Linked DNA regions of Homo sapiens. The protein of the gene in region 1 purifies or fractionates together with the protein of each later gene. This does not show direct contact. Each region holds a gene or a part of one and is shown on either strand. Other genes may lie near its edges.

The links. Proteins that work in one complex are often made in the same cells at the same time.
Region 2: the proteins of MOK (region 1) and ZNF223 purify together in Homo sapiens (affinity purification with mass spectrometry, with the first as the bait; one large-scale study listed by BioGRID). This does not show direct contact.

Annotation. Positions count from the first base shown.
Region 1 is NC_000014.9:102,301,586-102,307,593, forward strand, and holds the start of MOK (MAPK/MAK/MRK overlapping kinase), read right to left. Parts: upstream 3,580-6,008; 5' UTR 3,384-3,579; coding exon 3,377-3,383; intron 1-3,376. UniProt on the Homo sapiens protein: Able to phosphorylate several exogenous substrates and to undergo autophosphorylation. Negatively regulates cilium length in a cAMP and mTORC1 signaling-dependent manner.
Region 2 is NC_000019.10:44,062,036-44,065,267, reverse strand, and holds part of ZNF223 (zinc finger protein 223), read right to left. Parts: intron 1,951-3,232; exon of another isoform or gene 1,702-1,950; intron 1-1,701. UniProt on the Homo sapiens protein: May be involved in transcriptional regulation.

The DNA.
Region 1 (6,008 bases):
CTGATCATTCTACTTCTATAACTCTGTCTCTGTGATTTCCAGTTCTGGAATATTCTCTCCATTGTTAACTATTTTTAAATCATTTATTTAATGATCAGGATGTAAACCAGGGGGATAAAAGGTTACAATAATTCTTAGAGTACATTTTAAGGTAGAAGGAAGAAAGGGAGAATAAAGATGTCACCACTAAACCAAGTAACCGAAAACTACCAAAATGACCATCTAAAAGAACATACCAAACAATACTAAATATACTTTAAAAACAAAAGTTTACAAGAAGTAAATCATAAATGTACATTTTTTGTGTATTTTGTTTTGTTTTGATTTTTTTTTTCTTGTATTTTTTGGTTGAGATGGGGTTTCACCACATTGGCCAGGCTGGTCTCGAACTCCTGACCTCAAGTGATCAGCCAACCTCGGCGTCCCGAAGTGCTGGGATTACAGGCGTGAGCCACTGCACCCGCCCCATAAATGTAAATTTTATATGTATACACACATATACTTTTTTTTTTTTTTTTGCTCTGTTGCCCAGGCTGGAGTGCAGTAGTGCGATCTCAGCTCACTGCAACGCCCCCCTCCCAGGTTCAAGCGATTCCCCTGCCTCAGCCTCCCAAGTAGCTGGGATTACAGGCACCTGCCACCACGCCTGACTAATTTTTGTATTTTTAGTAGAGACGGGGTTTCACCATGTTGACCAGGCTGGTCTCGAACTCCTGACCTCAAGTGATCCACCCACCTCAGCCTCTCAAAGTGCTGGGATTACAGGCGTGAGCCACTGCACCCGGCCCACAAATGTAAATTTTATATATATATACGCATATATACATATTTATTTTCTTTTTTTTTGAGACGGAGTCTCTTGCTTTGTTGCCCAGGCTGCAGTACAGTGGCCCGATCTCAGCTCACTGCAAGCTCTGCCTCCCAGGTCCACGCCATTCTCCTGCCTCAGCCTCCCGAGTAGCTGGGACTACAGGTGCCCACCACCACGCCTGGCTAATTTTTTGTATTTTTAGTAGAGCCGGGGTTTCACCGTGTTAGCTGGGATGGTATTGATCTCCTGAACTCGTGATCTGCCCGCCTCGGCCTCCCAAAGTGTTGGCATTACAGGTGTGAGCCACTGCGCCCAGGCAGCATATGTACATATTTCTATATAGGTATACACATGCAGTGCTAACATTAGTCTTTTAAAAAGGGAGAAATACACATTTATATATTTATATATAATATATATAGAGAGAGTAAATTACTGAAAGTGATGCCTCTAGGTAGTGGGGTATGAAGAGTCTAAGAGGAAGGCCAGGCACAGTGGCTCGCGTCTGTAATTCCAACACTTTGGGAGGCTGAGGCGGGTGGATCGCTTGACGTCAGGAGTTTGAGACCAGCCTGGCCAACATGTTGAAACCCCGTCTCTACCAAAAAATACAAGTTAGCTGGGCGTGGTGGTGCACACCTGTAATCTCAGCTACTTGGGAGGCTGAGGTAGGAGAATCACTTGAACCCGGGAGGCAGAGGTTGCAGTGAGCCAAGATTGCACCACTGCACTCCAGCCAGGGTGACACAGAGAGACCCTGTCCAAAAAAAAAAAGAGTCTAAGAGAAAAAGAAGGTAGATAAATAAACCAAATGATCAAATCTAACTTCAGCAAAACTGCAACGAACTGACATCAGGCACTCTGGAAGGGCCACACTGACAGAGACACAACGTTGCCTCTCACATATTCCTGGTAAAAACATTTAAGCTGAAGCTAATCATGAGGCGAAAATCAGACAAATCCAAATTGAGCGATATTCTGCAAAACACTGGGCTGGATTCTTTAAAAATGTCATTTGGCCTACAGAGGACAGCCAAATAAAAATGAAAATATCATTGTCATGAAAGACACAAAAGGCAGGGACACCATATTAAAAGAGACCAAAGAGATATGACAACAGAATACAATTGGTGATTCTTGATTGGATAGAAAAAATATAAACAACTATAACACATGTTATTGGGATAAATGGAAAAACTGAAATATGGACTGTGTATCAGAGTATTGTATCATTGTTAAATTTTCTAAATGTGTTATTTGTACTGTGATGATGTAGGAGAATGTCCTTGTTCTTGGCAGATAACTGCTGAAAGAAGTGGTGAATTATTAGTAGTCTACAACTAACTCTTGAAAGGTCCAGTGAAAATAAATACATAAATGGGAGAGAGAAAACACCAGAGCGAAAGCGAGCACACAAAAATAAGGCAAAATGGTGCAGCTAAGTGAAGGACGGGTTTATAAATATTCAATGTACTGCTCTTGCAACTTTCCTGTACATCTGAAAATTTTCAAAACAAACAGATGGGAAGAAAAAAATGAATATAGTACAAAATATGTGCAGTATCATAGTCTGCACTGTAAGTAAAAGTGTAAAGTCTTTTGTAGACCTTGGATTCTAACTACAGCTTTGTAGTGCATTAATGAAAAAGGTAAACATTAAACAATATCCAACAAAATAAAATAAAAATAAAAATGCCTTGTAAAGGGTGAATGAGATTAATTATTTTAAATGTTATGCAATGTACACCATTGACAATTAGGATACAATGCAAATTTAACATTATAACTACTCCTAACATAATATTTTCACAGCAAAGGTCTGAATTTTTACTGCACCTCTGGTTCACAACCATAAACAATTATATCTGTACAGTAATAATAATTTTAAAAACATCATTCTAGCTGGTTGCACTTGGATTGTCAATAATCCACAAATCCCACTAAAGAAAATTTTTTACCCGTTACATTTTCTAGAATGACTACCTCATTTCCCAACTTTGAAGTAACAGCTTTTAACTAAAAGGTTGCTTCAAAACTACTATTAAAAAGTGGTTCCTATAAAACACTACTGCTTGACCCAAAAAATAAAATAAAGCACACAGCCCAGCTTTCCTCTCAATTGGTCACTAAACCAGTATCATGAAAAGGCAGGGAGCCACGCTGTAAGCGCTCCCCCGTTTTCTGCCGAATGTTCAGGAAAAGAGTGTCAGGTTCAAGCCAGCATTTAAAATAAAATAAAATGAATCACAGTCAACTCCCTAAACTCCAATGTAAGAACCACGCACCTGCACCAAAATATGCCTGAGCGGGAACTCGAGTCGGCTCTCCGAGACCCCAAAGTTCCCAACCTAGCCCCAACCCCTCAAGCTTCCCCCAGGGGCACCGGCTTCTCACAGCCGAGGGGGATTCGGGGCCCACATGCGGAGCCTCCCGGGCCTGTCGAGCCACGGCAGAAGGCGACGACGCCCGGCCCCACAGGCCCCTCAAGCTCCTCAAGCTCCCCCAGTCCCTCCCTCCCCCGCCACTCGCTCTCCAGTCCCTGCCCCTTTCCCCGGCCCCACTCACTCTTCATCTTGGATGCGGAAGCCGGTGACAACCCCTTGCCGACACTGGACGGAAAAGAAAGAAGCAGGAAGGTTGTCCCCCTGCTTTCCACTTCCCTGAGGCGGGGTCCCGCACTAGGATCTCCGTGGTGGTCCCTCGAAGGAGAGCGTTAGAGATCCCGCCGCCATGTTGTGTCCCTGTCACCCTAGCAACCGTCAGGCCCTGAACGCCATGAGCTGTCGCCTGCGCATGCGCAAGATGCCCCGCCCATGTACGCGTGCGCAGTGCAGCCCGTCCCCTCAGCCCGGTTGCTAAGCAGCCTTTCCTCCGCTTCCATGTAAATACTGTGCAAATCCCCGCCTTTGACACAGGCGACCTTCGCTCGGCTCGCTCTCCCTGCTGGCCTGGGAACTTAGCGATTTGGAACCCACTACGTGGACGATAGCCTTGAGCTTTAATTGGGCTTGGGAGCTTCTACAGGAATTTTTTTTTTTTTTTGAGACAGAGTGTCGCTCTGTTACCCAGGTTGGGGTGCAATGGCGTGATCTCGGCTCACTGCAACCTCCGCCTCCCGGCTTCAAGCGATTCTCCTGCCTCAGCCTCCCAAGTAGCTGGGATTACAGGCACCCACCACTACACCCGGCTAATGTTTTTGTATTTTTAGTAGAGACGGGGTTTCACCATGTTAGGCTGGTCTCGAACTCCTGACCTCAGGTGATCCGCCTGCCTCGGCCTCCCGAAGTGCTGGGATTACAGGCGTGAGCCACCACGCCCGGCCCAGTTTTTCTTTTTAATTCAACAAGCATTTGTTTTTGCCCCAGGAACTGTCGCAGGTATTGGGGATTAAAGGACAGTGTAGACGAGGTGACTGAGTTCTTGAAACTAACATTCTAGTGTAAAGATGAATGAATGTACACCGGAATGAACTATGTGCAGACACGGTGCCTAAGCAACACAGTGGCCTAGTTCTCTGGACCCTGACAAAACAATAAAATAACAAGCATACTATGTATGGGTATAGTATTTTATGAAGCTCATTAGATTAGCCTCATAATTATTCCATGAGATCAAAACCCTGTTTTTTCCTCCATTTTTTTTCTTTTACTAAAATACATCGTTTATTTTTAAAACAGATAAGTAGCCTTGCCAAAACGAAGCCTCAGAAAATTGGTTTAAGACTGAATTGGCCAGGTGTGGTGGCTCACACCTGTAATCCCAGCACTTTGGAAGGCCGAGGCAAGAGGATCGCTTGAGGCCAGAAATTCAAGACCAGCCTGGGCAACATAGAGAAACCCCACTTCCCTCTTAAAAAAAAAAAAAAAAAAACTCCGGGCGTGGTGGCTCACGCCTGTAATCCCAGCACTTTGGGAGGCCAAGGCGGGCAGATCACGAGGTCAGGAAATCGAGACCATCCTGGCTAACACGGTGAAACCCCATCTCTACTAAAAATACAAAAAAAATTAGCCGGGCGTAGTGGCGGGCGCTATAGTTCCAGCTACTCCGGGGGCTGAGGCAGGAGAATGGCGTGAACCCTGGAGGCGGAGCTTGCAGTGAGCCGAGATTGCACCACCTGCACTGCAGCCTGGGCGACAGAGCAAGAGACTCAAAAAAAAAAAAAAAAAAAAAAAAAAGCCGGGCACGGTGGCACATGCCTGTAAACCCAGCTATTCAGGAGAATAAGGCGGAGGTATCTTGAGACCAGGAGTTCTAGGCTCAGTGAGCTATGATAGCACCACTGCACTCTAGCCTGGGTGACAAAGCAAGACCTTGTCTCGAAAGAAAGAGAAAGCGGCCGGTCGCGGTGGCTCACACCTGCAATCCCAGCACGTTGGGCGGCCGAGGCAGGCAGATCACTTGAGTCCAGGAGTTCGAGACCAGCCTGGCCAACATGGGGGAAACCCCGTCTCTACTAAAAAAATACAAAACGGCTGGGCACAGTGGCTGATGCCTGTAATCCCAGCACTTTGGGAGGCCAAGGCGGGTGGATCCCCAGGTCAGGAGTTCAAGACTAGCCTGGCCAAGATGGTGAAACCCCATCTCTACTGAAAATAGAAAAATGAGCCGGGTGTGGTGGCAGGCACCTGTAATCCCAGCTACTCGGGAGGCTGAGGCAGAGAATTGCTTGAACCCGGGAGGCGGAGGTTGCAGTGAGCCGAGATTGCGCCACTGCACTCCAGCCTGGGCGACAGAGTGAGACTCCGTCTAAAAAAGCAAATACATAAATAAAATACAAAACAAGCCAGGCGTGGTGGCTCACACCTATAATCCCAGCACTTTGGGAGGCCGAGGAGGATGGACCAACTGAGGTCAGGAATTCGAGACCAGCTGGCCAACCAACATGGTGAAACCCTGTCACTACTAAAAATACAAAAATTAGCCAGGTGTGGTGATGCGCTCCTGTAATCCCAGCTACTCAGGAGGCTGAGGCGGGAGAATCACTTGAACCCAGGAGGTGGAGGCTACAGTGAGTCGAGATCCTGCCACTACACTCCAGTCTGGGCGACAGAGCAAGACTCCATCTCAAAAAATAATAAATAAATAAATGGTTACAATGGTGAATTTTATGTAAATTTTCTCTCAATAAAAAAGTTGAAAAAATAAATAGCGATTATTGCTGGTGTATTATTGTTGGTGGTGCTATCTTTGTTGGCTT
Region 2 (3,232 bases), on another chromosome or scaffold:
AAGAAAAGGAGTTAACCTAACTAAAAAGAGGTCAGGACTTTGTCCTCAGTATCTGAGAGGTAATCTGTAGAATCTTGAAGGGGCATGCCTGAGGAGAGTCTCTCTGTTTGCTTGGGGGCAAATCTTGGGTAACTCTTGACAGTGAAATAATATAATTTAGGGTTGTGACTAGCCACAGCTTTGGGGGATGGGAAATGGCAGGTGGCATTCCCCATGTCAGAAAAAATAACGATGTGATTTAATGTAGGTCTTTAGGTCACAGGGAACCAGTGGACCAAAAGACTAAATAACCACACAGGAATCAACCAACCAATTATGGCTATGTAATGGAGCCCCAATAATTACTTGGATCCCAGCACTCAGTTGAGTTTCCCTGATTGGTGGTTCCTTGTGTCTAAGTCACATGCTAATTTTGGGTATGTAACATGCCCGACTCTACTGTGAGAATACAATAGGAGATCCACATTTGGTACTTCACTGGACTCTGTCTTATTTGGTTTTTCCCCCTTGGTTAACTATAATATGCATCTTTTGCTTGTAAAAATCAGTAACTGTGAGAATAAATACATCCAGTGAGTTCTGAGGGTCTTTCTAGGAAATTATTGAATGTGAAGGTAGTTTTGAAAAACTGCCGAATTTGCACTTGGAGTGAAGTGAGAGCAGTTCTCTGTAAAATGTCCCATTAAACTTTTTAGTTTAACCCTTCATGATACTAAACATCAAACACCTTAGAATGTTTATATCTACAAATCGAAAGTATTCCTATACAAGAATTTTGCATGACACATATAAAATACTTAATCTTATTTTTCTGTTTTGATATGGATGATAAGTTGGTTATCTGAAAGAGTACAGAGACAGACAACTGCAGTTCTGAGGGGAATCTGAAAGGCTGTCCTTCCAGAGGTCCACAAAGGAGGATGCTCTTCATCAGACAATCAATGATGTGAAGAATCACTTGGAATGAAAAGAAAGCCTATGATGTAGATAAACAGGCCTTTTTAACTGTTTTTATATTCAAGACTACACATCAGTGAGCTGAAATAAAGTTAAAACCTTCAATAGACATTTATAGAAAGGAGCCAGAATGAAAATTATCACAGTGTGGAGACAAGCAGGAAAGGTGTCGTTACATGAAATGTCAGCTAAAGTCACTCACATACACCTACATGCATGAAAACTGTCCAGGTTATACTGAAAGAGGTGTTTCTTATTATGGTTCATGCTCACAAAATGTTCAAAACTTTGTCAGGATATTACCAAGTCCTGAATTAGGTAAATTTTTCTGATGGAGAGTTAAGTTCCAAAGGTTGAAACTTGGAAAATATTAATAGGTAAGTGGGTACCCATCAGTATACCTAGCCAAACTCCACCCTTAAGCCTAGAACCTCAGCCCTAAGTGAAAACAGATGACCCCATTTTTCTGCCCCAATGTTGCTTTTTTTGGCCTGCCTGCCACTATCCTGTGACCATAAAAGATTTCAGCTGGCAGAGCAACACAAGCAGCTGAGTGGCAAGGATACAAGTCGCTGAGCGGTGAGCAGAGAAGCAACTGAGTGTCGGAAAGTATGGATAGATGTGGCTAACTTCAGAAGGTGCTGCTTTGGAGAGGGGCCCAGCCACAAATGGCCTGGCTTCAGGAACATGTTGATCCCCTTCCCAGCCCCTTTCCAGCCTCCTTTTCTGCTGAGAACCACTCACCACTCAATAAAGTCTTCTGCGTTCATCACCTTTCACACAGTTCATGTGACCTGGTTCTTCCTGGATGCTGGACAAGAACCCAGGTGCCAAGAGGGCAGGGGCTGCTACCCTGATGCTCCACTGAGCTGATTGGCACTTGGCCATCCCCAGATGGCAGAGCTGAAACAGCATGGGTTGTAACATGCTTGGACACTGCTGTGGGGCGTGCATAACAGAGCCTGCTCTCGCCAGAGAGGAGCGACCAGCCAATTCCAGCATTCATTTGCTCCGGTTCCTGCACTTGCTCGCTTGCACACTCCCTCCTGCAAGGAATCGACAGCGGTGGGCTGAGTGAAACAAACCCTGAAGTTCCTGCCCGCAAAGATGGTCAAGGGAACAATCCTGTCTAATAGGTACATGGATATATTTAATACACTGTGACTTATAAATAAGAGGTCTTTAAGGAGATGGGAAGGGGTCTCAGGATGTTTCTATTTTGAGTAAGTAATTCCCCAATTCCTTCCAGGTCATAAAGCTTACTAGTTCAAAATATAGCACTAAATCTATAAAAATAAACAAAAAGCCTGTCCTTTAACTTTTTGACAATTAAATTTGCATAATGTAAAGAAAAGGGAAATACGCACATTTTTGAAGAAAGATGACCAGAAACAGAGTCAACATTCAGCTACATAACTTGTGTCCTCTCATCCTCATTCTTCCCCCTCTAAGGGAAGGAAGGAGGAACTGGAGGCAGTGAAGTGTGGGCCGACTTTGGAAAAGGCAAATGGGCTGCAGATGGGTAAATCTCTCAAAGGAAAGCTAGCTGCAAATCCTCATTCAAAAAGACTTTCTTCTCAGATATAAATATGCTCCCTATGGAAAGCTCCAGGGTAGGTCCCAGGGAAGGCATATTACTCAGTGTGGTCATGAAAAAAAAAATGCTATGCTTAGAAGTTTCCACAGGACATGGGTCAACTGCACACACATAAAACCAATCATGTCAAGGAAACCTAAGAAAGTTGAAAATGGATAAGCAGCCATCCACAGAGAAAAAAAAAATCTGTTCTGCAATATATAATCAGCCCTCCATATCCATGGGTTTGGCATCCATGGATTCAACCAACAGGACATAAAAAATATTTAGGGAAAAAAATTCCAGTTCCAAAGAGCAAAACTGGAATTTCTCACACACTGAGTCCTATGTTGAATCCTTGTGAATGAAGTGACAGGTAGGCATTGCATTTGGTATTATAACTGGTCTAGACATGATTTAAAGTATATGGGAGGATGTACATAGGTTATAGGCAAAGACTTCACATATATCAGGAACTTGAACATCTCTGGCTTTCGGTATCCATGTGGGGTCCTGAAATCAAACCCCTATGGCTTCCAAGGGACTAATATATTTCATACACTCTGGTTCATGTATTACTTATTAGCTAGCTCCATGATTCCTACAGACAGTGAAGTCCCCCCATCCATTAATTCATTCATCAGGATACCAAATATTTACAGATCCCTCCATGTACTAGGACTATTCTAGGCACTGAAG